2 separate regions of the Homo sapiens genome follow, and region 2 is linked to region 1. Evidence: fine-mapped expression QTL. A gene starts in region 1. The other region holds a variant in brackets. All regions are shown on one strand. Distances are from middle to middle.

Evidence for each region. PIP is the estimated chance that this variant, and not a neighbour inherited with it, causes the effect.
Region 2: its variant is fine-mapped to the expression of PLA2R1 in thyroid (GTEx, PIP above 0.99).

Annotation. Positions count from the first base shown.
Region 1 is chr2:160,055,357-160,070,951 of GRCh38, reverse strand. It overlaps PLA2R1 (phospholipase A2 receptor 1), which reads left to right and starts at 8,337. Exons shown (of 30, transcript NM_007366.5): 1 at 8,337-8,657. The coding sequence starts at 8,549. It overlaps LOC105373717 (a long non-coding RNA gene), which reads right to left. Exons shown (of 3, transcript XR_007087274.1): 2 at 14,722-14,826; 3 at 10,151-10,489. RefSeq lists an enhancer at 15,057-15,595.
Region 2 is chr2:159,999,995-160,015,589 of GRCh38, reverse strand. It overlaps PLA2R1 (phospholipase A2 receptor 1), which reads left to right. Exons shown (of 30, transcript NM_007366.5): 10 at 2,215-2,327; 11 at 9,769-9,938. Among named protein-coding and RNA genes, the nearest start is that of PLA2R1, 55 kb to the left of the region's middle. The variant C/T (reference allele first, on the strand shown) is at 10,007.

The DNA of each region.
Region 1 (15,595 bases):
AGAAGGTAGCAGGCTCCCTTTAGGGGAGAAACCTGTTTTGCCTTATGGAATCACAAGAATGAAAACAGACAAGTTTGTCTCAGCTCTTAAACTGCTTACTTTTGTATTGTGTTTCCTGTTTGTTTGTTTGTTTGTTTGGGTTGTTTTGTGTGTGTGTGTGTGTTTTGCCTAAAATAGTTGTTGCAGCAGAGGTTACTCTTGGTTTTTTAAGGAAGAGTGTGGTTTGTTCAGACACTTGGAAATGTCTTTATTTAAAAAAAAATTTTTTTAAGTGCACTGTAAAAGCATCACATGGTCTAAACTCATAATAATTCTTCCTTTTTGGAGACCCAGGATTCAGTGTGAGCTTTGCCCAGAGCTCAGAGATCCTGTTAAAAGATAGGTAGTCCCTATGTAGACAAAATTGGTCCTCTTATACAATCCTGTGATAGATTTCTATAATTTTTTGTCTGATTTGGCATCCATCTTTAATATCCCTCTAGGACCACCAGATATTTTCTCTCTGTACCTTATGACATAAATTTTGCTATTTGGTTTTCACCTGGGTTGTTTCCTTTAAATGCAAATTTAAGGCTATTTAGCTGACAACTGCCTAGGGCTGTGAAACAGTTTATCTAGAATCTGAAAGTGTAAGATAGAAAAAAAAAGGTTTTTATGAATCTATAAGATGTATTTCTATCAGCATGCCTAATATGTCTTTGTATTTATTTGTTGTGTACACAATGTTTCACTACTGAAAATATATAAAAAACCTCTAATTAATTGGGTTAAGAAAATAAAAGCACTTGAATCAAATACTTTATCAGGATAAAAGAAAAGACTAGTCAAATGCTTTTTCAAGCTTATGTAACTTAAGTAAAATCTTTAATAAGTTAGCTTTACAATTATTGGTAAAGTATTGTTAGAAATGTCTTAAGAATTGCCAGCATACGTTTTTGTTTGCATTTATAAATCAGGCAATTTCATATTTTTCCCTGCCAAATACTATAAGTTGTCAAAAATTGGCATAGGGGTTATAAAACTATACACCCAGCCCAAATCAGAAAGACCTTTGCTTGAGTAATCTTTAATAAGATATTGATATTGGTTTAATAAAAAATTCTACATCTTGAATTTAGTACGATTACCATATCTTCTAATCTTGTGGCTTTAGGTGGTCCATTCTACAGGCAGTAAGGTTTGTTTTGGGAAAGGACTGTCACAGTCTTTGTTTTAAAGCTAAACTATCAACTAAGTTCCTCCCAAAGTTAGTTTGACCTATGCCCAGGAATGAACAGAACAGTTTGGAGGTTAGAAGTAAGATGGAGTCAGTCAGGTCAAATCTTTTCCACTCTCTCAGTTACAATTTCGCAATGGTGGTTCTGTAACTTTAAATAATGACAATCACGGTTTTTGTAAATACTCTAAGTAAATGACAAAAAAATTATTAGGTAAATATAATAGGATAAATACTTGTAGACAAGCTCATCATAATTTAGAATCTAAAGTTATATCAAATTAAATCACATATATTTTATTATTTGGGTATTTTCCAATAAAAATATATTTGTAGGAAAACATTCAAAACAAATGTGTCCTTTAAAAAAAAAGGTGAACAATTTTTATCTAATTCAAAGCTTATTTAAAGGTCATGTATAAAACAAGGTAAAAGGAACCAGGAAATAAAAGAGATGTACAGAAAGTTATTAAAATAAAGAGGGGTTTTTTTGTGAGAAAGCGTAAAGGGAAATAATTTCATATGAGAAAGAATCTCGTATGGTAAATTTAGTCCTAGAGTAAAATGACTAGTTGCTTAAGAAAGAGGGATGTTCAAAACAAACCAGAAAGTACAAGCATGTCATGAATGGTCTATGTAAGTCACAATAAGAGGATTTATTTTTTTAAAAACCAAAAACTTTTATATGATCAAGTTGTCATATTATTATTTAAGTTTTGGGTTGCTTAGGAAAAAAACTGAGATTAAAATTTTTTAATTAAGGTTATTACATCCATCTATCTTTCATCTCTCCATATGCACTTTTAAAATACTTGTGACACTGAGTTACAGGGCTTTGACTCCTGGGTCTAAAAAGGACAACAACTCCTACTACATTTTAAACACTGACAGCAATTAAAGCCCCATTTTCAGGCCCTGTAGGAGATGCCAATCAAAATAAACTGCATTCCTAAGACACAGGACCAGAAATTAAAGCTATTTCAACTCAAGGCCCAGGAACTATCATGGAAAAGGTGGGCATGTGAGATTCTAAGGGCTGATTTTGAAAGATAAAATAAGTTCAGTTTCTCTAAAAAGTAATAATTAATGTTAAAGGCGCAGTGATGCAAGACTAGCATATTGGCCCCTTTGTCAAATTAACAAGGTTTTCTTGAAGCATTAACTGACTCCTCAATAAAGGTTATAAAAGGCTTATGGAAGTTGTATCTTACGGTCAAGATTAAAATTTTATAGATCATTTATAAAATTTCAAAAAACAAATTTAATTGGCTTCATGCTGTTTTTATTAGAGCTTATTGTTTGGAATGTCAAGTCTCCTTTCTCAAAGAATGAAGGTTTTTGCCTTTTTAAATCCTTGAGTTATCACTTTGGTTAAATGAATGATCTTATTTTGTGATATCAAGGGCTTTAAACCTTTGATATTTGATGAACTTTCCAAAATCAAATTATAAATTATGTCTTTTTCTAACCTAATCAATCCTTTAAGATATTAAGTTCCTTAAAGTTCAAAGATGACATAGTTTGGTTTGTCTGGTATAAATATTATACAGGAAACATTGTCAAAGATGAAATGGTGTTTGGTTTTCTTTAGGCTGTATTTATATAAATATATGGTATCTGTTCCAAAATCATGGGAACTCCTATAATTCTGATATGACTTACTGTATATTATCAGTAATACTTATAATTGTTATGTTAAATTATTGTGTGCCACAGATGTAACAAATTTCCTTGTCAATTGTGTCTTTGACCATGGCTGCCCTAAAATTTTTTGTCATCCACAGACAATTGTTGTCTTGTTTTGGTCCTCTTTAGGAGGTGGTTTTCTAATCTGCTATAAAAGTCTAACAGGTGTTCTTAAATGCCGGTTTCTGATAACTTTGGAGATTGTGACATTAGAATAGAGGAAAAACTTTCAGGACTCTCATGGAGAGCTAAAATGTTCATGAATATCAAGCAGAACAGGAGTTAACTATGTAAACTGAACTGATAGAAGACTAATTTTTTGATTTTTGCTTTAAATGTTGCTGATCCTTTGTTCTGCTTTTTTCAGAGTCAAGGAAACTTTTCTTTTGAGCTATTGACAGCTTTAACAATTTAGTATACTCCTATGAACACAATTTGGAGCATATCTGTTTCCCTCTACCTGATTTCTCCAGAATTTGGAAACTATCTGTGAGTATTCTTAACTTATGGCAATACAGTTATTTGCATAACTGCAATAAGAATCTGTTTTCATTTTGCAACAGGACGCAATTGGAGACATTGGTTATTTTACCAAGGCTTTAATGGTGTGCTTTCCTTTAAGGAATCAAACTTGACTTATGGAGTCAATAAAAGCCCTTGGGGAAACTGGTCTCATACCTTCCCTGTACAGGGTTCCTGACCTGTGGTAAGTAAAGAATGTTACTTTCTGACAGGCCCAGGAGCTCCAAGTTTATCTTGGAACCTCAAGAGGAAAGGATCACCCAATTCACAGGTATTAGGTGGCACAAATTCACGGCTGGGCTCGGCTTTAAAAAAGTCTTATCTGAGATTCCTTCTATGGAATAAAGTCCCACCAAAGACAATTTAAAAGCCTATGTAAAAAAATAATTATTCTTGCTGCACAGTATGCAAATAATTAGGATAAGTATAATAAAGCAAATCAGTCCTACCATGATTTGTCTTTAAAAATGGGAAACTGGAGAGAGAAAAATTATGTTTCAAAAACTGTAGTACACCTGTTGTTAGATTCTAGTCTTGTCTGATGTTTTTCAGTTTTATTATTTTCTACAGTTTGGACTGAATTCTAATTTTTTTTGGCTATAAGTTTTCAAAATAATGTTTTTAATTTTTTTTCCTTTTCCCCCCATTTTTCCTAATTTGGAGTCACTGAAAACAAAGCTGTGCTTTTGTAAAGCTCTGCAAACTGAAACTAGACAACTTGAACTTCAGAAGAAAATAACAGCAAAACCTATTTACATACATAAGCCACTTTCATACCTGCCTACTGATGTATGGACTTCAGAGTAATGTGGTCTACATTGATTTTCCAAAATATTTCTTTTGTTTATTGTTGTTGTTCTCCCTTCCTCCCCCTATTTTCTCTTCATAGGACATGAGACTTTACAACTTTCTAAAAATGAGCTTTCCTAATAACTCAGGACCTACCTGTCTAGGAATAAATCATCCTAGCCATGAGATATCAGATAAAAGACTAAACCTGGAACCAGAGACTAATTTGCTCCAAACGATTTATTTTTTTGAGACAGAGAATGCACCTATCATGCAGGCTGGAGTGCAGTGGCATGATCTCAGCTCACTGCAATCTCTGCCTCTCAGGTTCAAGCGATTCTCTTGCCTCGGCCTCCTGAGTAGCTAGGATTACAGGCGTGCACCACCACACCCAGCTAATTTTTGTATCTTTAGTAGAGACGAGGTTTCACCATGTTAGCTAGGCTGGTCTTGAACTCCTGACCTCAGGTGATCCACGTGCCTCAGGCTCCCTTAATGCTGTGATTACAGGTGTGAGCCACCATGCTCGGCCTTCAAAAGATTTTTCAAAAGAAAAGGGGGGAAATGCGAAAGAAAAATATCTTGGGCCCCCCAAATCATTAAGCTAAAGGGAAAAGTCAAACTGGGAACTGCTTATAGCAAACCTGCCTCCCATTCTATTCAAAGACTTCTCACCAAGATAAACGCATATCTGATTGCCTGCTTTGGAGAGGCTAATCAGAAACTTGAAAGAATGCAACCACTTGTCACTTATCTACCTATGACCTGGAAGCCCCGCTCTCCACTTCAAGTTGTCCCGCCTTTCCAGACCAAACCAATGTTCATCATACATACATTGATTGATGTCTCATGTCTCCCTAAAATGTATAAAACCAAACTGTGCTCTGAACACCTTAGGCACAGGTCATCAGGACCTCCTGAGGCTGTGTCACGGGTGTGTGTCCTCAACCTTGGCAAAATAAACTTTCTAAATTAACTGAGGCCCATCTCAAATTTTGGGGGTTCACAGTCCCTTGGGTAAACATTCAACAAACCAGGACCTCACCCTTTCTTGCTGATACCCTGATTCATACAGTGCTCAAAAAGTTTTGTTAATTTTGACAAACCGCAACCTATACATTGAGTTTTAAATCCCATTTTCTTTACTGTCAATACCATTCAAAGTTTTAATATTTTTCTCAAGTTTCAAATCACTCCACACACTGTACAGTAAGTCTTCACTTAACACCATGGACAGGTTCTTGGAAACTGCAATTTTAAGTGAAATGACATACAGCAGGTCCTCAAACAACATTATTTCCTTCACTGTGATTTCATTATGACATTGATGAGAAAAAGAAAATTGGTTTCATTATATGCCATTTTGCTTAAAATCATAGTCTCTAAGAACCTATAGATGACGTTAAGTGAAGACTGACTTCATTTCTTTCAACCTCTTTCTTTTCCTCCCTCATTCCTTCGCTCATTCAGCAGAGACTGAGAGATGACTAAGTGCCAGGAAGTGTGCTGCCCTGGAACTCACATTCAGGTGAGAGATATAAATAATGAATTCCAACTCCAAAGGAGAAGGGAAGCAATGGGAAGCTGTACAAAGGCCAGCAGGCACTGAGCCCTCCCTGCTGTGTTCCCCAGCTGAAGTCCAGAGCCATAATTACCACTAGCACAGTGCTCTGTAGCATGGCTTCTGAGCTCTCCTTTGCTCTTGCTCTCTGCTCCTCACTCCCTCCCCACACACCCACAGCTCCCAGAGGTGAACTTTACAGTGTGTTAGCACTGTGCTAGCACTCTGCATACATTAGCTCATTTAATGCAACCACACAATGAAGCAAACATTATTATCTCCATTTTACACAGAAGGAAACTGAGGCTGGGGCAAACTAAGTGGTGTGCTGGTAAGTGGCAGAGCTGCCTCATTTAACCATGACCCTACACTGCCTCATGAACCTGAAACACACGTGAGCCCAGGATATGGGTGCTGGTCATTTTCTTGAAGGTTAAAAAGCCCTTTACCACAGATTTCCATTTCAAAGCTGCAGTGTTTCAGGAAGAGATTTTTTTTAAAAAAAGAAAAAGTAGCTCTTTTCTGAGTGTTCTAATGGTTGAATAGAAAATACGGGGTTGGTAGGCCAGGAAGCTGTCAACACCTCTCTTCATTATACTAATTGCTCTGAAGATGAAATAAGGTTTGTTTCTCCCTTCTTATCCTACTCACAGACCTAGCTCTGCTACTTCAGAATAGCATCTGCTATGGGTCAAGGGAGGCATTTTCCCCCCTCATTATACAGAGACTAAAACAGGACCATAGCACGTGAATAACTCACCCTGGTCCACAGCCAGTGAGAGGTAGCCCAATGTCCCAGCAACTGTCCTCATTCGTCAGGGTGCCCCAGTGGCTGCCTTTATTTCAGCCAGGCATGCCTCACTCTCTCCCATACAAGCAGTTCTCACTCCAACCTTTGTATAATTTTTTTTTTCACAATTTCTTCCCATCCTAGAACAGCCTCTTCCTCCCAATACCCACCATACTATCTGAGCATAGTTAGGCCTCTATGCCCACTCCAGCCTAGTCTCTCTCCCCTTTACTCTCACTGCCCTGGACCTCACCAGAGATTAGCATCAGTGTCCTGTTTTATGACCTAATTATGTCATGTGCATTGCACTTGCCTGCTGCAATACATGCCAGCCTGCTCGGGCAGGGCCAAATCTTCTATCATAATACTACGGGGATATTCCCATAGCAATGTAGTTCTGAGGCCATAGGAGAGATGGATACATAGTTTGTGGCTGAAGTCTGTGTAATCTACTAGGCTTAAAGCATCTCTTTTCTGCATGTTTTCAAGCAAGGATGCTGAATTCTACATGTAATGATATGTTATAAACTCTACACACATTGGAACCTCTCACATCCTCTCAACCCACCTCTTATTCCAGCCCCCTCTGCAGCCTGTTTCCCCCGGCTGTCCCCCACCCCCCAACCCTCTGAGAAACAACCTGACAGCGCCTCACCTTTTGCCATGCTATGCACCCAGGGCTTCTAAGAGACAAGGTATGGGACCATGACTGAAACTCACCACTGCTGTAGAACAGTGCAGAGGAGTTAATAACCCTAGGATCTCCCTTACCAACAGGGAAGGATAAAGTCCATGGATAAACGCTTGCCCCTTTTGTCCTCGACAGACAGTTCTGAGGCTCTCTGAGGTTCCTGCAGGACTGAGCACCTTTTGTTAAGGCCATGGCCAAGGCAACCACTTTCCCTTCTTCCCCATTTGGCTCTGACCTTCAATCTTGCTCCCTGCTAGGCATTTCCTTCCAGGCTCTGCTTTCTGCCCCTCCCCTCCCCCTCTCTTATGTTTTAATGACTAATGTCAAGGTCCCGCTGAGGAAAGGTCTTATATGAGCCTGTTCTCAGAATATTAAACGCTTCCAGTGTTCTGCTGGTTATTTGAAGGAGGACAGTTAGAACGACTACATTCTAGCCAGGGCTGTCCTACTTGCTAGAGAGTAACTTTTGCTGGATTAGGAAGTAACCTAGAGCAAAGCACTTCGACTTTCTGGGCAGGGTTTCTCAGCTGTAAAAATGGGATAATAGGGACCCCGGCTACTTTGCGGGGCTTGGGGGATCAAAGGAGTTGGAAAGAGGAGGTTATTTCAAAACCGAAGGAGCTGAATAGAAGAATCTCCGGGTTACTCTGGGGCAAGGAAGGTGGAGACCACGGCGTGGCCCCTCAGGTGTCTCCAGTGCTCCACAAGTCAAAGGAGTCCAGGACCCTCCCAAAGCGCCTGCGTCGCGGAGCAGCTGGGTTCACTCTAGGCTGCCCGCTGCAAATCCGCGGTGTTTACCAGAATCCAGGTGGTTTGCAAACCCGGATGTCAGGCTCCTTGTCCCGGAGATTCTCAAATCGCTCACCCACAACTCCTCTTCGGCCTCCCCCAGAAAGGAGAGAGCAGGGCTGCAAGCTAGAGGAGCGGAGAGTGTGACCCGAGCAGCCTCACTCCGCCTGTCCCCACCCCAAAGGCAGGAATTTCTGGGATGGGCAGATGGCCCACCCCTCCTCCTCCTCCTTCCCCAAGCCGCAGTGGGTGGGGCGAGGAAAACCTCCGCGACTTTCCCGCATCCCAGCCCAGAGCCCCGAGTGTCGGTTCACTGTGGAGACAGCGGTGGCGGAGTGGGTCTCCAGGGCTCTGGGCTGGCAAGGCCCCCGGAGGGGGTGGGGCGCGGAGGAGGCTACGGATCCGCTTCCGCGCGGCGGGGCCGGGTGCTTGGGACGCGGCTCTGGGCTCCCGGGATAAGGGGCTCCCGGGACAAGGGGCTCCCGGAGAGCCCAGTGGTTAGCGATGCTGCTGTCGCCGTCGCTGCTGCTGCTGCTGCTGCTGGGGGCGCCGCGGGGCTGCGCCGAGGGTGTGGCGGCGGCGCTTACCCCCGAGCGGCTCCTGGAGTGGCAGGGTGAGTCTCCCAGGGTCGGGGACTGGATCGGTACGTTGGGGAGGGGGGTCGGGGTGGTCGAAGGAGAGGAAGAAGGGGCGAAGCTAGGGGCCAAGCTGGCGGGCAAGGGCGGCCGCGTTTGTAGGGGTTCGTGTGTCAGCAGTCCTGAGCATGGGGGGAGCGGGTGGTGTCCTGCAGCCTCTTGTCTAGGCCCAGCACCCCACTTGCGCGGCCCGGCACCCTCCTGGCTCCTGCGGGGGTCGGGCGGCGGGGGCGGGGGGGCTTGGTCTCGCAGGTAACTCCTCTCGGCTCTGGCGCCCGGAGCCAGCCCGGGATAGGAGTGTCGGAGAAGTTTCAAAACGGAAACTTTCTGAGAGCTGCTTATTTGGGACGGATAAATGATAGCAAAAAGATGGCTCAGTTCGTCCCCTTGCAAAGCAAGCGCTCAGGGTCTGCGTCGCCACCTAGGAGTGACCCCCAAGCCAGGCCTCCCCAGTCCATCCCTTCCTTAAGGAAAACTTTTTTTGTTTGTTTGTTTTTTGAGACAGGGTCTTGCTCTGTCGCCCAGGCTGTAGTGTAATGGCGGGATCTCGGCTCACTGCAGCCTCCGCCTCCCGGGGTCAAGCGATCCTCCCACCTCAGCCTCCCGAGTAGCTGGGACCACAGGTGTGCGCCCGCACGCCCAGCAAAATTTTTGTATTTTTGGTGGAGACGGAGTTTCACCATGTTGCCCAGGCTGGTCTCCAACTCCTGGGCCCAAGTGATCCGCCCACCTCGTCCTCCCAAAGTTCTGGGATTACAGGCCTGACCCACCGCACCCCGCCTGAAAACATCAGGCCAGGTGAGGGAGAGAAGCCCCAGTGGCTCCATGAACTGCGTGATCTGAAGCCTTTATGCCTTAGTCTCTCTCAGTGGAAAAACGGGGTTCAATTCAGCAAACACTTATTGAGCACCTACTACACATGAGACTCAGAAGGTTGTGTAAAGAGAGGGAGGAGAGATTTCTGGCCTGCAGGGGCCCGCATTTGAGAATGGGCCACCTCAGGCAGAGAAGCCTGCGCCTAAGTGCAGAAGTCCATATATGCAAGTAGGAGGGGGACAGGAGGGAGTTAAATATGCCAGGAGGAGCCTCCAGACAGCCTCCATCCTCTCTGCCTTTGGAGATAAGTTTGGAGAGAAGGGGTAACACAAGATGTGATCAATATCTGCGTTCACATTTTTTCCTCCACAGTAGAATATGTCTACATTTTTGAGGTAGTCTTTTCTAGACTGTGTTTCCTAAGCTCCCTGGAGGCTTAATCAGGGGCAGGTAGAACAAGACCATTCTTATTCTAAAGTGACCAAAGTCAGAGATGCTCTTACCTTCTTGGTCAATTCAGAAAATTGCTCCTGTGGATGCACATCTGATCCTGTAGTATGTATGATTCCTTCCCACTAAGTTTACCATGCAGTGGTTATTCCTTTGCATTTTAAAATGTGGGTTTTGCCTGGGCACTAGGTGGTAGAACAGGGCAGCAGCCCACAGGACAGAAGTTGGACTGGGCCACACAGAGAGTATGTGCTGGTGATCCTCCGAGTGAAGGGCTAATCCCTTCTATATGTAGCAGAACCAAATACTGGCCTGAGACAAATTCTCATCAGTGCCTTCTTTTTAGTAGTCAAGGGCACTCTGAAATTAGAGCCATCTGCTAGCCCTTGTACCTACTAGGTGCAATTTGCACATCTGAAAAGGTTGACATAGTTGGCATAGAGATTCTTCAGATATGAAAATGCTGCTGCTGATTTTCCAAGGAGCACGGAGGTTATGTACCATTCCTCGCACAGGCACAGGCTCTCTCCCTGACTCCAGTCACCTGCATGAGTAGAATTTCAAGTGTAAGCTGGACAGGTTTGAAGTCAAGTTTTTACTGTCAATACAAAATGGAAAAACAAAATCTTAACATTGAAAAGAACCTGAGACATTGTCTACTCTAGCCCTCTATTCTTCAGATGTGGAAGTTGAGGTATGGCTACCATGTAGTTAGCCATGCTTTGGGGTGCCTCAGTTTACCGCTGTGTTCACTGTACCACATTGACTCACTTTAGCCACGATTGACATCCACAGAGCAACTGAGAGAAAAATGCACACTCATTTTCATTTCCAATCCACTAATAATGGCTATGTAATAATGCACAGCAGATTATACATACAGCATTTTTTATCTGAATTGTTTGATATGTATTATTTGTAGATCTGATATGTATTACAAGCATGCCAGCCTTGGGAGGCAGATGATGGATTGTACTGTGATGATTTTCCAATGATTTATCAATAATTCTTGATATGGTTTGGCTATGCCCCCACCCAAATCTCAACTTGAATTGTATCTCCCAGAATTCCCACGTGTTGTGGGAGGGACCCAGGGGGAGGTAATTGAATTATGGGAGCCAATCTTTCCCATGCTATTCTCGTGATAGTGAATAAGTCTCACAACCTCTGATGGGTTTATTAAGGGTTTCTGCTTTTGCTTCTTCCTTATCTTTCTCTTGCCGCTGCCACGTAAGAAGTGCCTTTCGCCTCCCACCATGATTCTGAGGACTCCCCAGCCATGTTGAACTGTGAGTCCAACTAAACCTCTTTTTCTTCCCAGTCTTGGGTATGTCTTTTTCAGCAGTGTGAAAATGGAGTAATACAATTCTGTATTCAAAAGTCAGTAGATACAGTATTATATAGTAGTTAAGTTCTCGGGCTTCAGAGCTAGACGATCTGAGTTCAAATCCTGACTATGCCATTTACCATCCGTGTGACCCTGGACAGGTATTTTGCCAGTCAGTAGCTCAGTTTCCTCATCTGTAAAATGGAGCTAGTAATAGTACACATCTAAGTGTTGTCCTTTTGCTGCTCTCTCACCATGGCACCCTCTTCCTCTGGCCAATCCAGACATTTTGACAGGTTGACAGCCCCATAACAATTACTTACTACGGTGCACAGCACTGTACTTGGCAGGTCTGAAACTCATCTCCTCCTACCTCTAGCTCAGGCATCCCCAACCTCCAGGCCACCTACCAGTTTGTGGCCTGTTAGGAACTGGGCCACACAACAGAAGGTGAGCAACAGTGAACAAAAGAGGCTTCATCTGTATTTACAGCTGCTCCCCTTCCCTCACATTACTGTCTGAGCTCCACCTCCTGTCAGACCAGTGGTGGCATTAGATTCTCAAAGGAGCATAAACCCTATTGTGAACTGTGCATGTGAGAGATCTAGGTTGCGAGCTCCTTATGATAATCTAATGCCTGATGATCTGTCACTGTCTCCCGTCACCCCAGATGGGACCGTCTAGTTGCAGGAAAACAGACTCAGGGCTCCCACTGATTCTACATTATGGTGAGCTGTATAATTACTTCATTATATATTACAATGTAATAATAATAGAAGTAAAGTGCACAATAAATGTAATGCACTTGAGTCATCCCAAAACCATCCCCCACCCCACCACCCCATTGGCCTGTGGAAAATTTGTCTTCTGTGAAACCAGTGCCTGGGGCAGAAAAGGTGGGGGACCTTTGCTCTAGCTGGTTATTCCAAGGAGCCTGATTTTAGTTTGTTTTCCCTGATCAGAATCTGAGCCCTTCTTCTAGCAAGTGCTAAGACACACTAACTTCACTCACTCAAGTACTCCAGATACAAAGTGGACAGCGGGGAGAAAGAAGAAGGGGATGGAGCATCCTGGTGAAAACTGGGCATAGTCATTGCTAAAGGAAATGATCAGGGGGCAAGTAAAAGGGTTTTGAAGCTTTGTTGAGGGTTGAAAAATGATAAATGTGAAATGGTCCCCCACTAATATATCGTAGGAGAGTTTCCTTCTGTAGTGCTCAGCTTCCCAGAGCAGGAGTGGAAAGAACCTAAGTCTGTGTCAGTGCCTGGGGACACTCAGGGGAGGCTCTTCTAAATGACCAGTGATCAAAGGAGGTGAGGGTGCAGATGAGTGTGTGGTCAGTGTGCTTGCCATCAGGTCCTATCTGGGGAGAAGAAAGTGAAACAGGGTTGGGTGTACGGGGTGTCTCTCGACATGCTGCGCCGACGGAAAGAGGGGTAGGGGCTGATGGCCTCAGTTGTTCATTATCTGTCAGGCAATATGTGCTTTATCTACCTGTTTTAGTTGGGTTCATCCAAAAGCAATTCCTGAGACATGTTTTCCTTAGGGTGCAAGTAGTTTTTTTTTTTGGAGGTGATTCTAGAAAGCATGGTAAGGGAGTGAGGACATGAGACCAGAGAGGGAAGAAAGCCACCACAGACCACTGGGGCTCAGTTTCACAAAGGACCCTTTGAGGAACTGTATAGAACTCAGTGGACCCACCAACGGGCAGGAAGCTGAAGTATTTATCCACCAACTCCCGCCTCTTATTGACTAAGGTCACTCCTGGGGCATTCACCCCCTGGTGCTCCTGGTCTCTCCCAGGCAGAGAGCCACAGAAAGTCAGTGGGAGTGCACGAGGACTGTCTGCAGGTGAGTGAGCTCCAGGTTAGAGGGTGTGAGAAGGAAACCAACAGAATCTGCTACCCACCTCCAGATTGGGGAGGTAAAAACATGAGTAGGATATGACACTGGCCCCAAGAGGCTGAGAGTCCAGGGACAGATACAGAAACATAAACAATTACAAAACAGTGAGAGAGGTCTTATGATAACCAGGGATGAGCAAAGTGCTGAAGGCATGCAGAGGAGGCACTGGCCTGGGGAGCTGGAGGCTCATAAAAAGACATTTGTTTTCCTAAAGGATAAGTAGGCAGTTACCATATAGGAAAAAGGAGACTGAGCATTCCTGGGAACATGTATTTCATGTGCAAAGGCCCAGGATCACGTGTCAGGCAACAGTAAAAGTTCAGTGAGCTGAAAGTTCCCTTCTGAGCTCTTTTGGATTCAAGGAAAGAGGCCCACTGAAGGTCACTCAGGCAAACGTGGAGTTGGTTGTAATGGTCCCAGGATCTCAAGGGGGACCCAGGACAGGTTCTTCAGGGCAGCCAGGCCTCCTGGGAAACAGGCACTGGCCACTGACATGAAGCATTACTTTATCTGTTTCTCTCTGTCTCTGGGGCTCTATGGTGGTTCCTGCTTGGTTGTTCTTTCTGTTGACTGTTTCTTTGGCTTTGACTAGTAGGACTTTCCTCTGTAGCTCCCTTAGCTTCCTGGGAAGAGTCCCTTAATTTCCTAGGAGAGGGGTCTGGTTACATTCTTCACAGCATGCTAGCTAGTTCCTGTGCTCTGCCCTCAAGTCGAAGGCCTTCCCCTGGCTAATTGGCCATGGTAGAGGCAGGAGGTGGACACAGGGATGGATGCTGCTTCATCCAGGGCTGTGGATGGTATAGACCACCAGAGTAGGGTCCCAGGCAAAACAAGAAGCAGTGACATGTCTATAGTTGGAAGCATGAGAGAGATGAGGAAGAGTTTGGTTGGAGGCACCCTGCTTCTGGAAAAAGTCTGGCTGAGTGAATTGGGTACTGCTGAGAAGGGCCCTGTGGGTTTGCACAAAGGGGAACCAGATTGCATGTTTAAGTTTAGAAGTGCCATGTTCAGTCTGGGACTTGAAGAGGGTCTCCTATCACCTTGAAGAGGGTAATTCTGGAAGGCAGCAAAGAAACCGTCTGGATAGTTAAAGCTGAGCTAAGTCAGTCCCAATAGGAAGATTGAGGAGCAGAAAGTTTGGGTTCAAGAAACAGGGTTTAAAAAGAGGAAAATATATATTTAAAAACAACAACAAAAGAAAACAGTTAGTGAAAGTTAGATGAGGGAAGATTGCAGAATAGGAGAGGTAGTGGTTATAGAGTGCAAAATCCAAGTTTTGGAGATGGACCTATTCTTGGTAGTGACCAGATCCAAGCTGTGTTTGTGGGAGTGGTCACCAAAGTGAAGAAGAGGCAAAAGAAGGTCCTCACAGCAGAGGAGGTCAGGGAGCCCAATGTCCAGAGCAAAGCTAAAGTCGAGTAGAGTTTGGGACTCTTTTGTCAGCAAACCACAATAAGAAATACATTTTACATCACAACCCACAGCATATAGGTCTACATATGTATAACTGAAACAATGTTTCATTTTTTAAAAAATACCCTTACCTAATATGACATGCTGCTACATTTCCCCCTGTTCCATTCTGTTTCGTTTTGTCTCGCTGGTCATAACACATTCAGTTGATTTCAAGACCATAAATGGGCCACAACCTGCAGTGGGGAAAGCATCGAGTCAGAGTGTTGGGTCATCTGTATGGAAGCTAAAGTGGCTTTGGGGTGTGGAGAATAGCGGGGAGTCTGCTGGTATCAAAGCCATGGTGAATGGGGGGAAGAATGGTTCAGGGCAGAGGGCCCCAGTGGCGAGGAAGGGGGGTAGCTGCCACCTTCTGAAAGAGGGCGATGAGAGCCACTACCTGGAGGCGGCAGTGGGGAGAAGCTGTAGCCCTGAGATTTCCTGCATAGCTTCTGTTTCTAATACAAAGGTAAAAATGCCCCTCTACTGCTTCTAGTATTTTCTAACAGCTGGGGAGTCGTTACTCTTTGTTGTTTTATTTACATCGACACATTGTCTCCTCACCAAAACAGGTAGGCAACATTAATACATACCCTTCTTTTACAGATGAAGAAGGGTTAAGTAACTTGTGCCCACAGGAGCTTGCAGCATGGGGATTCGAACCAAGCACTCTGCACTAATGCAAAGGATCCCTGAATAGCCTTGTGACCCCATGGTGTGGTTCATTCTGTATCCTGCTGCATGACAGAAGCATGCGATTTGGTTTCACAGCAGGAAGAATAGGAGGCCAGCCTCTTGTTCTCTGCAACTCCTCCTTTTCCAAACCCCTCCTTCCACATGTGGGAGTGATATTTTCCTAAAGCAGAAATGTGCAAAGCTACTGATTTATGTATTGTTCTAGGCAATTCTGATGTCCCTAGGCAATGAGCCATTCTACTAATCTGGAAACGGAATTTCAGTAAAAGC
Region 2 (15,595 bases), 55 kb after region 1:
CTTTCTGGGAAACTCAGCGTGTTTTATTTTTGTTGAAAGGACAATTAACTTTTTACACTGCAAATACAGAACTGATGTTCTATTCAAACTTTTGTTCATGGCTTCCCTTTTCCAGCCAGCATTACCAGTATTTAAAGTTTCTGAGTTCATAGCCAATTCTCTAGCTTTGTGAGGAAATTTCCAGTAATTTTATTATGCATCAGTCTATGAATATGGTTTTGAAAGTTTTCTCTTTTTTAGAAAGTTGCTTCAATGCAATTCTCTAAACAGTCTGCACTTGAAAAATCAATTTGTAAAATCAATCTTGATAATTTCAAAGCAAAAGAAGTGATTTGTTTTTCCTTCTGAGTCACTTTTTTGGGATTGGACAATATGAGCAATTCCTTCAGTTTTGTCACCACCATCCTTTCATTTAAAAATGAAATGGCACCTAGTGTACAAAGGGTTAACTGATATAATCAGTTATCCTTCCCGTATTCATTGTGTGGACAAAGTCTTGAAGTAACAAGTCTGTGTTTCTGATTATTCTATGCCAGATCTTTTTTTCCCTCCCTTTTCTTGAGCTGGTTCAGTTATTGGATTTTTTTGTTTGTTTGTTTTGCTAAGCAGCCTATGATCTAAAAACTGCTAATGAAGAAGAATACATTATCGGAAAGGTCAAATTGCCAGCCTCCCTCTCCCTGTCCTTCCAAGTACAGGAGCAGTCTAATATCCCTGCTCCTACCCTGGAGGGATGCATGAAGGAGCTGTATGGAGCTGTCAGTTACTCACAGAGAGAAGATTGGGAATAGAAGTGAAGGGGAGTGAGTTCAGAGCAGATCCTAGATGGCTGGATGTGGGAGCTCCTGTGCTTCCTACCTCAGTTAATGATATGTTTGAACTAACACAGCTGATCTCTAAATTAAGGTTTTCTTTAATTTACTGCAAGACCAACATCTTTTCCAAGAAATTTATGAGAAATCATTTTATAACTGATCAAAAGCTGGCAAGAATTGGCATAGCATAAAATGAAGAGTGTTTTAAAACTGGTGAATAAATTAAAATAGATAAAAATGATGTGATTTAATAATATTGGGGAAAAAAGAACTAAAATAGCTCAGTTTAAATATAGAGGACTAATGAATGTATGTCTTACCATACTGTGTGATTTCAGATGAGATCGGGCACATTCAGGGTGGTGTGGCCATAGACTGTACTGCATGATTTCAAAGGAAGAGCCACCCTTCGTTGTTCCCAGGGCTAAAACATAGACCTACATGTTTGTCATTTTTGTCTGAGTGCCAAAGCTTACTTTCTTCCCCTCCAAAAGGCCAGCCAGTTAATTTAGGAATAATCTTTACAAAAAAAAAAAAAAAGAAAGAAAAAGAAAAAATACATATATTGGCCATTCTCTATTTGGAAGCATTATGCTCCAAACAAGACCATCCTGGACTGTTCCAGAATTGGGTTTCAGGCCCAACTGATCCACTAGTTTGACTTTATCCAAGTCCCTAATCTCAATGAATCTCAGAGGGATAACATGAAATAATCAATATGAAAGTTGAAAAAAATCTCTAATATTATCTAGATACATATATTCTCTTTGTTCATGTTCTCTTTCCCCTCTGTTCAATTCTAAAATCTCTATCTGTATTGTCCTTCTCTGATTCTCAGAACAACCCCATAAATACTATTATTATCCTCATCGTATAGATGAAAAAACTATGATATTAAACAAGGTTGCACAGTAGTGGAGCCAGAATTCAAACCCATGCATCCTGACCCTAGAGCCAACACTTAATTTCTACCCTCCTGTCGGGACCATTTATATGAAATTCTGTAAGTCAGAGAGAGAGAGACACACACACACACACACACACACACACACAGAGAGAGAGAGAGAGAGACAGAGAGAGAGAGAGAGAGAGAGAGAGAAAGAGAGAGGTAGAGATCTTGAATGAATGCCCTTTATTTTCATTTACTTTTAAGGTTTTACGTTTTAAGTTAATTAAAAATTTTAGGTTTTAAGATAATAAATTAAATAAATGTAGAAGTGGGTGTAGTTAATGGCATTACTGGATAGAATAAATATAAAAATATCAAGACAAAAATTCAAGGAGTTTTAAAGGAGTAAGAGAAGAAAGTTATGTAGGTGGTAAAAGAGTATGCAAAAATATCTCTTGGTATTTAACTAAATGAGATTGTGTCCTTAATTTCCCTTTTATTCTTTTTAAGGGATGGGAGAGACATGGTGGATTCTGTTACAAAATTGACACAGTCCTTCGAAGCTTTGACCAAGCTTCCAGCGGTTATTACTGTCCTCCTGCACTTGTAACCATTACAAACAGGTAAATTAAACTTTTTTTAACAGAAACAAGACGGCTTTCACATGAGGACTCTTGGAATGATAAAATCTAGCTACAATCATAACTGTTCAAAATCTAAATTGTGCTATACATCAAAGTACTAAATTATTTAAGTTATTTATTGAGATGAATTTAAATTATACTATGTTATTCCAGAATTGATTTTTGAGTAATAAATAATAAAATTTAAGGTGACCTTTACTATCTGTAAAGATTTATTAATTATCCAGCTTTTCTAATATATTCAGATGTTTTTAGATTTTATCTTCTAACTGCTTATATGGGAAATGAAACCCGTTATTTATTTTTTATTTTATTTTTTTTCATTTTTTTGAGACAGAATCTTGCTCTGTTGCCCAGGCTGGAGTGCAGTGGTGCAGTCTCAGCTCACTGCAACCTCCACCTCCCAGGTTCAAGCAATTATCTTGCCTCAGCCCCATGAGTAGCTGGGATTACAGGCACCTGCCACCACGCCCTGGTAATTTTTGTATTTTTAGTAGAGACGGGGTTTCACCATGTTGGCCAGGCTGGTCTGAACTCCTGACCTCAAGTGATCCACCTGCCTCAGCCTCCCAAAGTGCCGGGATTACAGGTATGAGCCACCGCGCCCAGCCAAAACACATTATTTAACAAGTATTTTTTTGATGTAATGTATGTGAGTTGTATGGGGGTGTTTTTAGCAGAAAAGCTATAAAATGTGGAGGATATTCAAATCCTTCACCATCACTTCTTCCATCTATTTTATTTAGATTGAGACTTCTCTGTGCACATATGCCTTCCTGATGCTGGCACAGAGACTGTGCCCTTTTTACACTCCATACAATCTGCCCCATGGTACCGATGCATAATACCTGTAGGGGATAAAAATACCAAGAGTAAAGGTGACCTCATATTAGTATCGATGCCAGGAGGACAGTGGGGGCTGGAACACCTGGGAGACCCACTCCTCCTGGGGAAGACAGAAGCGGGGTAGAACTCCAGTGGTGCCACAGGAAACTACACCTGCAAAGCAAGTCACTTGCATATTTACCTGGGCCATTGCCTTTAAAAATATTCACTGAATACCAGCAAATAGGACAACTGGTTTTACCTAGAGACCCTTCCCATATAAGCCTAATTTGTAGAGGAATTCCTGTATGATTTCTCTGCTCCTCCCACATTGGAAGTCAACATCCAAAGCTGCCAGTATGTCCTTCCTCCTCTTACCCTCTTTCTTGCCTTCTTACCCAGCTTCTGTTCCAAACAATGCACAGGAATGCATACACACACACACAAACAGACACACGCACACACACACACACTCAAATGGATTGATAGCATTTGGCAGACTAAGTCACCTGGTGAAACATTTTACTTTCAGGAGATCCTCCCGTTGAAATATAGCACTACCTTTGATGTATCTCAGCATTGTTTTTAGTTCTACCTTTCTCCTCCCAGGTTTGGCTAACAGGCAGAAGAAAGCCTTTATCAATTTGTTAACTCACCCAAAAGGTTCCAAGAACACCTTGGGTTGGAAGTCCCCCAGTCAGTGAGTCAACACTGGACTTCACAGGAGGCTGACCAATGAAGCTATACGCTCTTTTGTTAATTACAATTTAATTATGTTTTTTACCAAAGAAAATAAGTCCAATTGTTTCACCTGTTTTTTATGTCTTATTCTTTATTTTTTTGTTTAATGTTCATTGAGTGCCTGTCACATACCTGGCACTGTGTTAATTATTTTTCATATGTTATCTGACCACACAAAAAATTAATAGCCAAGAGTTTATTAGAAAATTTTTTTTGAATACCTGTTTTGTGAGAGTCCCCATATTAAACACTGACATGCTATCCACAAGAAATAAAAGGCATGCTATTATTGTCCAGTGCTTTCTGAAACCCAGCAGCTGAAGAGATCGAACATAGACACAAGAAATAAGTGAAGAAGGTAGAATAGCACAATAAATGGATAAACTCACAGTGACATTACAGATAACCCATAGTGCCACAGTGACCCAAGCTAAGGCAGAAATCTGTTAGAACAAATGCTTCATATTCCATGAACCCTTTGGGGACCTCATACAAATGACAGAAAGTATCTGGGAAAAAAATCTGTTTCATTTTCCCCAAAACTGGATACAAGACTATGTTGTGAATACTTTAAATGTTTTCTCTGGTAAACTGTATTCAGTAGCCAGCGCTCATGCCTGGTCCATCTGTAAAGCAGAACTATGGCATAGAGAAGTTTGTTTTTATCCCAGTCTTGGCCTCCTACGCCTGTCCAGATTGCCCTGTGCTGGTGTGCTGCCTGGTCACCCGCCAAGCCCTGAGGGAGTACAGATGAGCAGGATGTGTCATCTGTCCAAGTCAGTTAACATATACTTATGCTACCCCCAAAACATGTCTACATTCAAAGCAGCAACTCCAACACAGGACTCATGAGTTGAAGAAAGAAAGGGCCAATGCTCTTGGTTTTTAATCATTCAGAGTCCATCAGGGAAGAAACAAGGGTCCACACTGTACTGCTTTTGATTCACCATACACGTTGGAATTTTTGCAAACAGCATCTTTTGTCTGAGAAGGTTGGGCAGTAGATGGAAAGTGTCTCAGATCCAGGAGTGTCCACTAGTGGCCATGGTAATCATTTTCTTCCATTACTGATTTCCTGTTTAAGACACTCCTGTCACTCTTCAGTACCCAAGCTTGTAGTTGCTAATCGATTTTCCACTCTTCTGCACAATGGAATGACAGGTTTGATGGGCACAATTAGAACCACCTGCTACAAATTACTTATTTCTTTTGTGATCAGGCAACTGCTCCTGGTCTAAGACTTTTAACACTTTGTGGAATAGAGAGGGGAAGAAAAACAGATCCTTATTGTTGAGTAACAAATTTTTGTTTGCTTGCTGATTGTTACAAAATTTTTTCAGGCCTGGCCACTTTGCTTCCAGACAAAGCATGAATGCAAAAGTTGAGTTCCAAAATTATAATGGATAATTGGCTAAATCCATGTATGTCTAAATTTTGAATCAATCAGCCATAGAATATTGGTACAAAATAATCCAAATGGCATTCAATTTTGTGAATTTTGCCAAAAGTGAGAAATTCTGCAATATCTCATTTTCTCCTAAGTTTATTTTACTTTCATTTATTTTTGAGACAGTGTCTTACTCTGTTGCCCAGGCTGGAGTGTAGTGGTGCCTTCATGACTCACTGCAGCTTTGACCTCCTGGGCTCAAGTAATCCTCCTGCCTCAGCCCCCCAAGTAGTTGGGACTACAGGCATGTACCACCATGCCTGGCTAATTTTTTAAAATTTTTTACAGAGACAGGTTCTTGCCATGTTGCCATGGCTGGTCTTGAACTCCTGGGCTCAAGCAATCCTCCTGCCTCGGCCTCTCAAAGTGCTGGGATTATAGGTGTGAGCCACTATACCCCTCCTAAGCTTAAATGTGCATTATTTTAAAGCATTTTTACAGCTCTACCGTTTTCCTGCAACTGTCATATCTCCCCAAAACACTTTTGCAGTTAATATTTTTTTTATTGTGGTAAAATATACGTAAAACACACATAAACGTAAAATTCACCATGTTAGTCATTTTTCAGTGTGCAGTTCAGTGTCATTAACTGCATTCAGATTGTTGTTCACCCACTACCATCATCCATCTCCAGAACTTTTTTCATCTTCCCAAACTGAAACTCTGTACCCATTAAACAATAGCTGCCTATTCTCCCCTCCTCCCAGACCCTGGCAACTACTATTCTATTTTCTGTCTCTGTGAGTTTAACTACTCTACATGTCTCATATAAGTGGAATTATGTTTTTCTGTGTCTGGTTTATTTCATTTAGCATGTTGTAGTGTCAGAATTTCGTTTCTGGAAATTCTGTTTTAAGGCTAATTCATATTCCATTGTATGTATATACACATATTGTTTATCCATTCATCCATTAATGGACATTTGGGTTGCTCCCACCATTTGGCTATTGTGACTAATGCTACCATGAACATGAATGTACAAATACCCTTCGAGTCCCTGCTTTCAATTCTTTGGCATGTATGCCTATAAGTGAAATTGCTGGATCATATGATAATTTGATTTTAAATTTTTTAAGGAACCACTGTACTCTTTTCCATAATGGCTACACCATTTTCCATTCCCACCAGTAGTGCATAAAGGTTCCAGTTTCTCCACATCCTAGCCAATGCTTACTATTATCTGGTTGTTTTGTTTTGATAATAGCCATCCTATTGGGTGTGCAGTGGTATTTCACTGTGGTTTTGATCTGCATTCCACTGGTGATTGATGATGTTGAACATCTTTTCACGTGCTTATTGGCTATCTGTGTATCTTCTTTGGAGAAATGTCTATTCAAGTCCTTTGTCCATTTTTTAATTGGGATGTTTGTCTTTTCTATTGTTTAGTTATAGGAATTTTTAATATATTCTGGATATTAATCCCTTATCTGATGTACAACTTGCAAATACTTTCTCCCATTTTGTGGGTTGCCTTTTCATTCTGTTGATAGTGTCCTTTGATGTGCAAAGTTTTTAATTTTTATAAAGTCCAATTTATTAATTTCTTATTCCGTTGCCTGTGCTTTTGGTATCATATACAAGAAATCATTGCCAAATACAATGTTATGAAGTCTTTTTCCTGTGTTTCCTTGTAAGAGTTTTATAGTTTTAGCTCTCATGTTTAGGTCTTTAATCTACTTTGAGTTCATTTTTGTGCATAGTATAAGGTAAGGGTCTAACTTCATTCTGTTGCAAGTGGTTGTCTAGTTTTCCCTGCACAGTTTATTGAGAAGACTGTCCTTTCTGCACTGAACAGTCTTGGCACCATTCTTGATAATCATTTGACATATATGCAAGGGTTTATTCCTAGTCTATTCCACTGGCCTATGCGTTAGTGTTTATGCTAGTACCACACTGGTTTTTTGTTTTGTTTTTGTTGTTTTTGAGACAGGGTCTCACTCTATCACCCAGGCTGGAGTACAGTGGTTCAGTCATAGCTCACTGCAGCCTTGACCTCCTGGGCTCAAGCCATCCTCCCGCCTCGACCTCCCGAGTAGCTGGGACTACAGGCATCTAACACCACCACCCACAGCAAATGTTTTTTATGTTTTGTAGTGACAGGATCTCACTATGTTTCCCAGGCTGGTGTTGAGCTCCTGGGCTCAAGCAGGCTGCCTGCCTCAGTCTCCCAAAGTGCTGAGATTACAGGCATGAGCCAATATGCCCAGCCCACACTGTCTTGATTACTGTAGCTTTGTAGTAAGTTTGGAAATCAAAAAGTGTCAGACCTCTAACTTGGTTTCTTTTCACGATTATATTGGCTATTCAGGGTTCCTTGAATTTCCATATGGATTTTAGGATGAACTTTTCTATTTTTGAAAAAGATATCATTGGGATTTTGATAGGGATTGCATTGAATGTATACATCACTTTAGGTAGTATGAGCATCTTAACAATATTAAGTCTTCCAAGGCATGAACACGGGATTTATTTCCATTTCTCTGTGGCTTCTTTAATTTCCTTCAGCACCATTTTGCAGTTTTCAGTATACAAGTCTTTCACCTTTCAGTATACAAGTTTTCAGTATACAAGTCTTTGTGTAGTTTATTCCCATGTATTTTGGGGGCACTATTGTAAGTGGAGTTATTTTCTTAACTTTCTTCTGGCCAAACTCCACATCGTTCTTCCTGTCGACGGCCTGCCGGCATCTGCCAGTGCCTGTCGGTGTGCTCTTCCACCGGTGTGTTCCTCTGGATGTCCAGCCGCTTGTCTGTCTTCCAGCTAAGGCCTCGGGGGATTTTACAAGCACAGGATGGGGGTGTGGCAAGCCAGGGTGGTCTTGGGAAATGCAACATTTGGGCATGAAAACAGAAATGCTTGTCCTCACCTAGGTCTGGGGGCAGAGGCTGGGGGTGGAGCCCTAACCAGGGACCCCGCCCTTCTCCTCCCAGCACTTCCCTGACCCGGTATTACTACTCTGCCTCAGAGGAGATAGAGAAAAGCAGATCGTATATTATTGAGAGCATGAACCAACAGAAGTGTAAGGAAAATTACAACAGCATGTAGGCAATATTTAGTCTTCTATATGTTCCTTTTGAAGCACATTTATATAAGGTTCTGCCAGTATGATCTGGATTAAAAAAAGAACTTTTCTTGTTTCAAATGTGTGCTATTTAGGTTATTAATAGAGTATCTGCAGAAAATATTTACTAAAGTATGACGAAAATCCATATCCCCTGCAAAGATGAGTACCATAAATACCTAAGATCTCTAAATGTTGCTAATAATATCTGTAAGGCACTTAAAATTTTTACTTCTTTTTATTCTTTTCTCTTTTTATCTCCTATTTCCTTTGAGACTCTTCTATTCATAAATGACCTCATTGCTTTTGCTTCCCTTAGCAAGTTAAGGATGCACAGTAACGAAAAAAGCCACCAAAATTGAATGAAAAGATCTAATTTGCTTTCTCCTTAGGTTTCCTGGGTAATGGCTTCAGCCTTTCCTTTTCCATTGACTCAGCAGGTCTGCCCAGAAGTCGCCACTGTTTCAAATGTGCTTCTTCTAACTTTGTATGTTCTAAAAATAGCTTTCTCAAGATAGTTTCAACTTAGCTGAAAGGTTCAATGCTAGTTAAATTTTAATAGTCATGTTTTTCTTAGTAGGTGTGCATGTGGAAGCATGTATGTGAGTCTTCTATATTCTGCTTTTGATGCATTCATACTGGAAAGGGGGCACTGCCACCAATCATTGAACAGTAATTCATTCAGCTGTTTGGGAAGTATATTAGTGGATGTACGGCCTTAGATTAGTTCCTAGGCTTTCACATTTTTCTTCAGTGAACATGCAGATTTAAACACATTTGAATAAGCTGAGACCTACCTCTGCCTATGAACACACTGATTTGGGAGACATAAAATTGCTACTTTAATTTCTGTTTCTTTCTCACCAGGCAAGTGAGGTAGGTGGGTGTGTGTGAACTCTGTATTAGTAAATGCTCATTCAGAAAAGCATAATATCTTTCCTCCTCCCTCCTGCCCACCTTTACCCCGTGCATATTGTGGCATGGTGTGTGTGGTGTGTGGCCTAATTACAAAATAGGCCACATCGTACTCCAAGAAATGCATTGCTGGCCATGTGAACTTTACCACCTATGCTTTGAAACTGGAGCTGGACTCTCTATTCTGTGCAAGAATTAAGCCCCATATGCAAGAGTCAGATTCTGCTCACTCATATAGTTCTGGGAATTGCACTGACATTCGGCATTTATTAGTAATGTTCAGGGTCTTTGGGTGTTTTCCTGTTCCATGTTCTAAAGAATTGATGAGAAATGCTTACTCTGGGGCCATTCTGTGCACTTCATTATGCTTTAATGACATTTTTTTATTGCCCAGAAACTTAATGTAACCACTTCTTTTTTCCCCTTTTAAGGTTTGAACAGGCTTTTATTACCAGTTTGATCAGTAGTGTGGTAAAAATGAAGGACAGTTATTTTTGGATAGCTCTTCAGGACCAAAATGATACGGGAGAATACACTTGGAAGCCAGTAGGGCAGAAACCCGAGCCGGTGCAGTACACACACTGGAACACACACCAGCCGCGTGAGTAGAGTGTGCTGCATCACCAACCCTCCCTGTTTTCTTTACTCCAAATTCCTTCCACCCCTTGG[C/T]CCACCTCCTTTGATTCTTTCTTAATGTTTTCTTAATGCCTAAATCAATTACAAGGATCAACACAGGTTAACAGGGGGTGACATATGGCTGATCTTTGTTTTTATTTATTTTATTTGTTTGTTTGTTTGTTTGTTTGTTTGTTTGTTTTGAGACGAGGTCTCGCTCTGTCACCCAGCCTGGAGTGCAGTGGTGCAATCTCGGTTCACTGCAGCCTTGACCTCCTGGGCTCAAGTGATTCTCCCACCTCAGCCTCCCCAGTAGCTGGGACCACAGGCATGCGCCACCACACCCAGCTAATTTTTGTATTTTCTGTAGAGACAGACTGATATTGAACTCCTGGGCTCAAGCAATCCTCCCACCTTGGCCTCCCAAAGTGCTGGGATTATAGACATGAGCCAAATTGCCTGGCCCAATGGTCATTTTTAAAAGTATAATCCGTATGAGTCATTTGACATGTTAAAGGTATAAATTCATCGCTCAGGACCACCACTGCCTTTATTAGCAGCAAGTCCAGCTTCTCCCTCCTAATGTCTTTCTCCCCACCTGCACCCCCCACTGTCTAAGAATCTCAAGTGCTTACTCAGTTCAGAATGGTCAGTTAAACTTCAAAGTACGGTGGATGGGCACATATGGGTACATCCAATCAGTTCACAGTCACTGCCTGGGGTACCTTAGCCAGGATTCCAGCGTTAACAGCTCTACTAGTTCATCCTCAGGTGTTCAGCTCTGAATCCCAAGGCATGAAACTGTGCCAGGTTGGTCAGTACCAGAGAAGCTGATGTCTTCCGCCACAGCCTACACTAGAACCAGTCTCTGTGGAACAAGCTTCAGGCCCTTGTATTAAGCTGAGGTTGACAGCCTAGACCCAACAGCCCTTCTACTTCAGGGTGAGTTCTTGCTTGCCTGTATCTCCATCAGGGCTGTGCCAGAGACAACAGCAAAGAGTTACTAAGTTTGTATCTAGAGGAAATGGCTTAGGGGCCCCAGGCTCTTCCCTCCCTGAAGGCCCGGAGCTCTTTATACAAATTGGTCTATTCCATCCTCAGAGCTCTATATACCAAGGTAAGGAAAGTGTTTGCTAAGCCACAGGGGGAGGTATATCTCCCCTTTAGTGTGGCCTCACACTAAAATATAAAAGTGGCCACACAAGCCTTGTTTCTCATAATTACAAAAGTCCAGTCCAAGGTGGTTTGCTAATCCCAACTCTAGACAGTGGTTGGCAAAGCTCCACCGATTTTTAAAATTCAACGATGAAATCATGAATATATTCTTACTATAGATAATGTGACCATATACCTCATTTGCCCAGAACAGTTCTAATTTATGTCTGGTGTCCCAGAGCAATTAACAGCAGGTATTTTTACTCCAAATTTTTCTGGCTTGGATGGTAAATTATGTAGATGCTCTAATTATAGAGAAGTGTGCTAAGTAAAATGTGGAAGTACTCCGTTACATCTTTCTCTTCACCTTCCCAACATCAATACATTTCCCTTTTCAGAAACAACCACTGTTAACTGTTTGGTATGATCCTGCTGGTGTTTGTCTATGCATTGCATTTAAATACATTTATGCATATGTACTTTTTAAATGGATATAAGGATTGCATGTTTCTGTTATTTGATTTTTTTCACTTAGCAATCTGTCTTAGAGAACTTTCCACATCAATATTTATTAGTCGACATTTGAAACAGCTACATAGAATTTCATAGTATGTAGGACTCATAATTTGCTTTGCCATGACCCTGTTGAAGGACATTGGGTGAAATTCATTTTCATTTCTGCTACAAAAGTGTTACAACAAATATCTCTATGTTGATGTCGCTGTGCATAACTATGAGCATGTTGGCCTAAAAGTGTACATCTTACTGAGGCATTATCAGTTTACAAGTTCATCTAACAAAATTTGAGAGTGGCAGCTTTCCCACATTTTTGTCAATACTGAATGTAACAACCTTTTACATTTTTGCCAATTTGATAGAATAAAAAAAGTTTTACTATTCTTTTAATGTCTACCTTTTCATTTAGTTATTTGAGCAATTTTTCATATTTGTTCTATACATTTTGTTTTGTTTTTCAACTACATGGTCACATAATTTGATCACTTTCTATTTTTATTTTGGACACTTTCTATTTTCTCATTACTTAGTGGAAATTTCATTATATTCTAAATATAAACTCTACATGTTTGCTATTTGCCTTTTAATTTTTCTATGGTATGTTTTGTCACACATAAATGTTAAACTTTTTGTAGTAAAAAAGTTTATATTTTTCATTTTAGCTTTGTAGATTTTTATATTTTCTAAAGGCTTTGCTCAACCAAAGATTATAAAAATATAACCTTATATTTTTATAGTTTGGCTTTTTAAATGTATAATTTTGATTGATCTGAGATTTTAAAAGTATGTTCTAGGAGATAGCTCATTTTAATTTTTCTAAATAGTAACCAATTTCAACACTATATAGTAAGTTCACCCTTTCGTCTACTGATTCGAAATACCATAATAAACATAACCTACATTCTCATTTTCTGTTTCCCTGCCAATATGGCACTAACATAATTCAAGCAGTGTGGTATTGAAAAAGAAATAGAAAAAATAGAATCAATGTAGCTGAAAAGAGAGCAGTAATACAAGAATATAATTTCTATTATTCTTAGTTTTCTTGGAGCTCTTTTTTAAAATTATTAACAGATTTTAAATTTTACTCAACACTCTGAATCTACTAAGACAATCCTAAGGTTTTCTCCTTTACTCTCTTAATATGACAAATTGCTTTACAGTAGTAAACCAGCTTTGTACTGTTGGGTAAACTTAACTTAGTGATATGTATTTTAATACATCTCTGGGTTTAGTTTGCTAGTACAAAGCTTCACCTACTATAATGTACATAAGAATATCCTGTAGATTTTGATGAAGTTAAAATTCTGATTCAGTAGATCTGGGGTAAAGTCCAAGAATCCGCATTTTTTAAAAAGCTCCTAGGTGCTGCCTATGTTGCAGGTACACAAACTAACCTTTGAGTGGTAGGTTTATGATTTTAGCAACCTTTTTTCATAGGGAAAACTAGTCCACATTTCTTCATTTGTATACAGCTTTGGTTTCATGATTATGCTAAGTTTCATAGAATGAATTGGAGAGTGTTCACTTTTATTCTCTACAGAACTATATATACAGTAAACATTTATTAGAATTTGCCTTATGTTTTATATAGGAAATTTAAAAACCACTAATTCAATTTCTGTAATGCTTATAAGACTACTGAGGCTTCCTACTTCCTTCCAAGTGCTGCTTGAGTTGTATTTCACAAGATTTAGTAGAGTTTTATAATTTTTCAATTTAGAATACATTCCAATTTCCAATATGAATATGATTTCAACCCATAAATTATTTAGAAGATTTTTTTTAATTTCCCAAAATGCAGGTGTTTCTAGTTCCTTTTGTTGTCAATACCTTATTTAATTGCACTGTGGTCAAGAAATACGGTTTGTTTGGTGCCTGTCCTTTCAAATACAAAGTTGGTATTATGGCCTTGCATGTGTTCTTTTTATATATATATATCCCATATGTACTTGAAAAGATTGTATATTCTGCTTTTGCTACCTGAAATGCTTCATCTATGTCAACAGATTATGTTAAATGTGTTGTTCAGATCATCTATAGCCTCAATATTTTTTGCCCACGTGATCAATCAATTATTGAGAGTGTTTGATACCTCCCACTATGATGGTAGATGTGTAAACTTCTCCCTGTAGTTCTGTCGAATTTTTGTATTACATACTTTTTAGGCTGTTTTATTAGGAACATACAAGTTTAGAATTGTGATATCCCACCTGTGGTGTCAAAATCGGTATAGTAGTATCCCAAGTGATCCTCTTGTTCTTTCAAAATTATTTTCTCCTTAGAGTTAATTTGTCCATGAATGTAGCTACAGTAACTTTTTAAAAATTAGTATTGGCCTAGTACATTTTTTAAATTTTTTTCTAACTTTGAATGTTTTTGTGTTCTTAGAGTTAATGTATCACTTATAAACAGCATATAACTAAATTTTTAAAACTCTATTCACACATTCTTTGTCCTTAACTGTATAGTTTGGTTTACTTATATTTTTTGTGATTATGTATAGAATTGGATTTATTTCTTCCATTTTATTATGTCCTTTCCATTTATCCTGCATTTTTTAGTCATGTTTTCTCTTCTTTCTTGCCATCTTTTGAATGTATCTTTTTCTTCTTTTCTCATTTCATTCTTTCCCCTTTACTTATCTGAAAATTGTATTATCTAAATCTATTTTTTTATTTGTTACACTAGCTATTCAACATGCATTCTTAACAAAATCAACAATATCAAAGTTATTCATCTTTAAAAGGATTATAATTTGCTGTTGCTGTCTAGTTTTGAAAATTCTGAACTGCTTCATTTCTGTTAGCCATGATTTTGTTGTTGTTATCTTTGCAATGAATATTTGTTTAGATGTATTCATATACTAGTGTACCATTCCTTCTGTGATCTGGAACACCTTCAGTTTCATATCCTTTTCATTAGACTCCCGCAACCTGAAGATGGTTGGTTTTACACAACTCTGGAAATTTTTCAAGCATTATCTCTTCAAATACTGCCTCTCCCCATTCATTCTAATATTTCCTTTTATCATTCCAATTACTCAGCCTCTCCTCCATGTTTGTTAATATTTTTAAAATATTTTCTACCTCTGTGTCTCTCAAGGATGCATTTTAAATAAAGTCATGAATTATTTCAATTCATTGATTCTCTCTTCAGCCAGATCTAATTAAATTTTATTTTTTAGTTTTCAGTGTTAGATACTATATTTATTTCATTTCTAGAAAGTCTATTTCTGTTTTAAATTTGGTTTGTGGTTCTTTGTAGTCACTTGTTTCCTACTCATATTTTAAAGATTCTCTTTCATTTCCTTAAATGTATCCGAGTTATTTTGTATTTGGTTTCTAATAATCTCATACCTGAAGTTGTATGGGTCTGTTTCTGGATCTCATCTCTTTCATTTTGTGGGTTTTGCCTAGAACTACTGATTTTTCTTTGTACTTTATTTATGGGAGTTCTCTCACCCCCAGGGTGAAGTTGGGCTCCTCCAGTGAAAATTAGCATTTGTTTCCACCACTCAGTTTGAGGCACTACCAACTAAGGACTGCTTTAAAAGCTCTGACTGAGGTTTTCTTGAACACATAGGTAGCATGAATTCGATGACTAACGACTAACCTGCATGAAGTTTGGGTTGTGGTTATAAATTCTTTAGAAAGTTATTTCTTTTCTTATTATTCACTCCCAAGATTGACAGAGACAAGTTTCCTTACAAACAGCTGAGTGAATATATTCTCATGTACGCTTACCAAAAGTGGCCATTTGGGATTCTATTTTATGCAGGTTTCTTCTGTTAGACTTTTCATTTTGTATATCTCTTAGGCTTCATCTCCTTTCCCTTAAAATCTCCATGCAACTATCAAAGCAGATGCTCAAGGTCTCCAGAATTGGAAAGAAACCTTTAGGGTAAATCCCACTAGGAAGGTAGTTTGGCTACCATGGTTCATACTTTTACTTCATTTGCAAGCTCTATAG